2 separate regions of the Homo sapiens genome follow, and region 2 is linked to region 1. A link means that fine-mapping ties the variant in region 1 to the expression of a gene that starts in the linked region. Tissue or cell type: tibial artery. Region 1 holds a variant in brackets; the other region holds the start of a gene. All regions are shown on one strand. Distances are between the middles of the regions.

Region 1 (2,844 bases):
CCTGGCTGTTTAGGGTGAGGTAGGTAGGAAGAGGTTCGCCTGGGGAGTGGGGAAGCCCTCCAGCCAGACTTCTGGCCTCCTCCTCCTCCTCCTCCTCTTTGGTGTCACCCTCCAGCCAGGCAGTGGGGCTGGCACCTTCCCTGCTGGCGTTTGGTAAGTTTTAGCTAAAACGCTAAGTGAGAGACTGAGGAGGGAGTGGGAGGGAGTTTTTCCTTGTTTTCTACTTCATGTTGCCTCATTCCGTACCACGTAGAACAACACCAGACTTGGTTTCTAGAGACTGCAGGTTTGTGTGATGGTCCCGAGACCCTTGGGAAAGGAAGGAGCCTGGACCCCATTCTCAGCCTCACAGGACAGCTCAGCCAGGGGATGTGTTGTTGCCTCAGATTTATTTTTCCATTTCACAAGCCAGAGAGGGCTGCGGGGCGGGGGTGGGTGGGAGACAGGGGGCGCAGTACACCCACATGTCTCTGCCCTTCTTATCCAGTGCTGGGGTCTGTGCAGCTCGTTCCTGCCTGCTGGGAGCAGGTGCACAGAGCCCATTCTCCTGGTCTTGAATCCATAGAGAATGACAGTGAAGATCAGAGGCTGACAGACTGCCTAGGGAGGCCTCAAGATATGTATGGTTATTTGATTTGATTTAAAAACAAGTCAGAGAAAACTTGAAAATAGGGAGGAAGGGAGGAAGGAGGTATTGAGAGAAGGAAGGAAGGAAGGAGGGAGGGAAGGAAGGAGGGAGGGAAGGAAGGAGGGAGGGAGGAAAAGAAGGAGGGAGGGAGGGAAGGAAGGAAGGAGGGAGGGAGGGAAGGAGGGAGGGAAGGAAGGAGGGAGGGAGGAAAAGAAGGAGGGAGGGAGGGAAGGAGGGAGGGAAGGAAGGAGGGAGGGAGGAAAAGAAGGAAGGAGGGAGGGAAGGAAGGGGGGGAAAGAAGGAGGGAGGGAGGGAAGGAAGGAGAGAGGGAAGGAGGGAAGAAGGGAGGGAAGGAGGGAGGGAAGGAGGGAAGGGAGGGGAGGGCAGGGATTTTCCATCTCATTTACCCTGACATAGTTATTGTCATTTTAATTTTTTTATTTCTAACCATCTCCCAAATACATTCCTAGTGGTTCTCATGGCCATGGACGGCTATGTGCAAAATTGCATTCTGCTCTGTGTCACTTACCCACTTCTTTCTCCTGCTCCGTGGTTACCCCTGGATGATCATGTTTGTGGCCGGTTGGATGTGCTGGGGTGCAATTAGCCATGTCCCTGGAGGAGCAGACCCACACCGGGCACCCGTGCTCTCACAGGCCTGCGCTTTTGGAGCTTCATCTCGCC[C/T]TCCCTGAGCTGGTTCATGTTAATTTAATCAGGCTATGCTGATTTCTCTCCAGCTCCCAGCAAATCCTAGCTCGTGGGAAAGCTGGTGTTTTTAGTGGGGGCACAAGCATAATGGTCCCCACCCTCCCCTACCACCAGCCTGGGAATCTGCAGAGCAGGTGAAGTCAGAGGGTACCGTCGGTCCCCGTGAGTGTGCAGGGCAGAGCTTGCTTAGGCTTTTGACCTGAAGTTATTTAAATTCAAGGACATTTCTTAGAGGAAGGACAAAAATCAATAAGGGAGACAGTAAGGCTTTTACTTACACCTCCTGGAGGGCCATGGAGCCTGTGACCCAAGATGCAGGGGGTGGAGGTGGGGGTGGGGGTGGGGGTGGGGGACCCTTGGGGGGCAGATCTCATTACTGGTGTTTGTTTGTGTTGTTATTTTAAACCATCCTAGGGGAGCTTATGAAATCTCTGGAGACTTTTAAAAATAGCATAGTTTCTGGTTTTAAAAGTAGTACATGTCCACTGTATAAAATATGGAAAAATACAAAATGTTCCAAATGATGCCACCCAGAAATGACTACCATTTACCTTTTGATGCATTTTCTTTTTGGGCTTTTTCCCTGTGAATGTGTCGAGTTTTAACATAAATGGTGTAGAGGGTGTTAAGGACGTGTAGTTGTGTGGAGTGAGCCGCTGAATTCTCTCCATGCCTCAGTCCCCCTATCTGTGAAATAGGCCCAAAAGTCAGACCTTCCTCTCGGGCTTGCAGTGAGGCCAGATGAGGACGTGGGAACACGTCAACCCTTGGCACAGTGCCAGGAACACAGTCAGTTCTCAATAAATGCTTGTCATTGCCATTAGCAATTTCAGTCCACCATGTATATAATTTTGGATCCTATTTTTTTTCACTTTGTGTTCTGACCTCAGAATTTTCCCATGTTTTAAATGTTGGGTAACCAGCATTTTTGGGGCTGCATGCGCATTCTTTCTGTGGCTGACTTAACTGCTGTTGGCCATCCACGGCTTCTCCAGCTTTGCATGCTTTTTGGTACCTCCTGCTGAACCTCCTTGCACGTTCATTCTTGTCCCCATTTCTGGTGATCTTAGAGGACAGATACCTAGATGTGGAAATATTGGGTCACAGGCTATGGGAATTTATCTATGGGGCTCTGAATAACGTACGCTCAGCTCACTTTTAAGGAGGAGGACAGGGCTCCCCATTCCCCAGCGAGGTTTGCTGGGGCCAGTCTGACTCCGTCTCTCCTGGAGCTTTCACCTGGGCTTGGTGTTTATTTGCAGAAGTGATAATCCCCAGCCGCACCTGCAACCTGGAGCTCTGGGGATGAGAAACAGCTCCTGTGGCCAATGATATTTCCAGGAGGATGTGTGTCTGGGTTTTTTTGGCACAGGCAGCATGCGGTCCCAGGTATTAGCCAGCCCCGAGACGCAGGAGCTGCAGGGATGCGGCTCCATGTGGGCGGGATAAATCTGTTTACAGGCCATCGCCATGGCTAGGCTGCCTGGCTCCCATTTCACAGGCGCCTG
Region 2 (2,500 bases), 27 kb before region 1:
ACCTTGGGCAAATTCGGTAACTGTAGGGTCTCACTTTTAAGGAGTGTAAACCACATGGTGGGCACCAAACAGGATAAGATCCTGGAATTCTCTAGAGTTCAACAGTGGAGGTGGGGAGGGAGGGGACCGGAAGGCCTGTCCTGGCATTTTCAGTAGTCTCCACAGGAAGTTCTGTCCTGGCATTTTCACTAATTTCCAGTGACCCCACAGAGGGTCACTTGGAGACTCAGTGGCCAGAGACCCCACAGCGTACCCCAGCTCCTAGGAGTTGGCCTGCTTCTTGTTCCTTCCTAGAAGCTGGAGTCACATTACTGGACCGGAAAAGGCTCCTAGTATCTAAACCAACGAAGAAGGCCCTTCTTTCACAGCCCCCCCGCACTTTGGAGACTCCCACAACTTTACCTCCACACTAGTTTGCCCCCCGACCCAGGCCCTCGACACTCCCCACGCAGGGCTCCCAGGATTCGGGGATGGGCAGGGCTCGGGTCCTGGTCCCTCCAAGTGGGGGCTGCCTCTCCAGAGTGGACAGGGGACCCGCGGAGGGGGTGTCTTATCCCGGACGGGAGGGAGACGCTGCCTCCTGGACCAGGTACTGGGACCCACGGGCCCACCCCCAGTTGCGTCACCCGGCCCACCGCCCCCTGAGACATCACAATCTGGGGGCCGGGACCCGCGCCTCATCACAGCCGGTTTGTAACCAAACAATCCAACCTACAAACACCCCGGAAAGAAAAAAAACACAAGCTGGCCTGACCCAGCCTCCCGCCCCTGCCCCGCCCCGCCCCGCCCCTCGCCCCTCGCCCCTCGCTCCTCAGGGCCCCCGCCCCCGCACGGGGGAGTGAGAGCGAGCCCGCCGCCCCGCACCCGCCGCCCCGCGCTCGCTCGCGCCAGCCCGCGGCGGGGGCGGCCCCGACCGCGCCGCCCGCCCCTCCCCGCCCCGCCCCGCCCCGCCCGCGCCCGCGCCCCGCCCGCGCCCGCCGCGACTCCAGCTCCGCGGCGCCCTCGCCGGGTGCGTGCCGCTCGCGCGCCCGCCAGCCAGGCTCTCCGCGCCCGCCGCCCGCGCCGCGCTGGCCCGGGCTCTCCCGCCCGCGCTTCATGGCTGCACACGAGTGGGACTGGTTCCAACGCGAGGAGCTCATCGGGCAGATTAGCGACATCCGAGTGCAGAACCTGCAAGGTAACGCAGCCCAGGCTCGCCCCGGGATGGCTGGGCGCTCGGGGGGCCCGGGGCGCCGCTCCGACACTTGGCAACTCCCCCGCGCCGCCCCCGCTCGCCGGCCGCTCGTTGTTCCTGTCACTTGCCTCGAGGTGGGAGGCTGGGGTTGGATACCCGCCCCCAAGCCCCAGGGCGGCCAGCCGCGGCCAGGTTTACAGTTGCCCAGGGGGTGGGGCGCCACACGTGTGTGTGTTGTGGGGCGAGGGCTCGCATTTTCATTAGGGGGACGTCACCACCCCCTCCAGTCACCGCTGCGAGTTTGGAGAAGTTTGTACGTGGGCTCTTGGGGGCGGTGGCCCAGGTTAGGGAGGGGAGGAGACAGTGCGACTCTGTGTGTGTGTGTGTGTGTGTGTGTGTGTGTGTGTGTGAGTTCGCGCACTTCCTAAGTACCTTCGAGGCAAGGGGAATTGAATGGTGGGCGGCGCTTCAGGGGGTGAGTTGGGGAAAGCGGGGCCAGGGGTGCGGATCGGATCGGTGGGGTCAGGCAAGCACCCAACTCCAGCGGCCACTTTGCTTAGGGAGCTGCCCCTCCCCTGCAGGATCAGGACTCTAACTGGGGAGAGGGCGAGAGCCCCACCCTTCCCCCACGCTGGCCCCCAACTCCGACCCTGCCTGGGCACAGGACACTGGGACCAAGGCTTCTACCTGGGAGGTAGCTGAGAAGAGGTGAAAGAGAAACTCCAGTGGTGGAGAGCGGCTGGGTATGGCGGTGCCACACATGAAGTGTGTTTCTCTTTCAAAAGAATTTATTCAATGTGGAAACTTAGAAAGCACAAAAATATTTGAAGGAAAAAAGTCACCCATAATTTCCCCTCCACAACCTATCCACCCAACAGACAGGTGTTCTTCATGGAACTGTATCTCCAGCTTCTTTTTTTTCATATATGGGCTTTGCAGAACTAGACAGAACACCACTTCCGGCCCTTCTTCACCCACATTGACCTGTGCAGGTGAAGTTTCTGTAGCTGCTTCCCCTGCTGGCTTGGGTTTCTAGAGGGTTCAAGGTTAGGAGTGGCTAGGAGCGAGCTGGGAGGCCTGGGCAGAGAGGCGATGGGGCTGTGGGTGCCCTCCCCCAGCCAGGGCAGCGACTTTACTGTTATAGGGTAGGGAGCCCCAGCGCTGGGGGATGGCCGAGCAGTCAAGTTTAAACATTACACCTGATTGAATGTTTCCTGGGAGCCCAGGGTCTGCCCCACCCCTAGGTTGGGCAAGGACAGTGCCGGCAGAGGTGACCTCAAAAGGACTGGGGAGCCTCCTGGGGTGGACACTGGAAACTGAGTTTGC

Direction of the effects. Alleles are on the strand shown, and positions count from the first base shown. SD is a standard deviation of normalised expression in the study named.
With allele T in place of C in region 1, the expression in tibial artery of the gene that starts at base 980 in region 2 is higher (small effect, 0.24 SD a copy in GTEx).

What was found. PIP is the estimated chance that this variant, and not a neighbour inherited with it, causes the effect.
Region 2: CLMN starts here. The variant in region 1 is fine-mapped to the expression of CLMN in tibial artery (GTEx, PIP 0.91).

The regions. Positions count from the first base shown.
Region 1 is chr14:95,291,273-95,294,116 of GRCh38, reverse strand. The region is part of intron 1 of CLMN (calmin); the gene reads left to right. Among named protein-coding and RNA genes, the nearest start is that of CLMN, 27 kb to the left of the region's middle. The variant C/T (reference allele first, on the strand shown) is at 1,313.
Region 2 is chr14:95,318,388-95,320,887 of GRCh38, reverse strand. CLMN (calmin) reads left to right here and starts at 980. Exons shown (of 13, transcript NM_024734.4): 1 at 980-1,177. The coding sequence starts at 1,096. RefSeq lists a silencer at 1,000-1,259 and enhancers at 1,890-1,969, 1,990-2,109.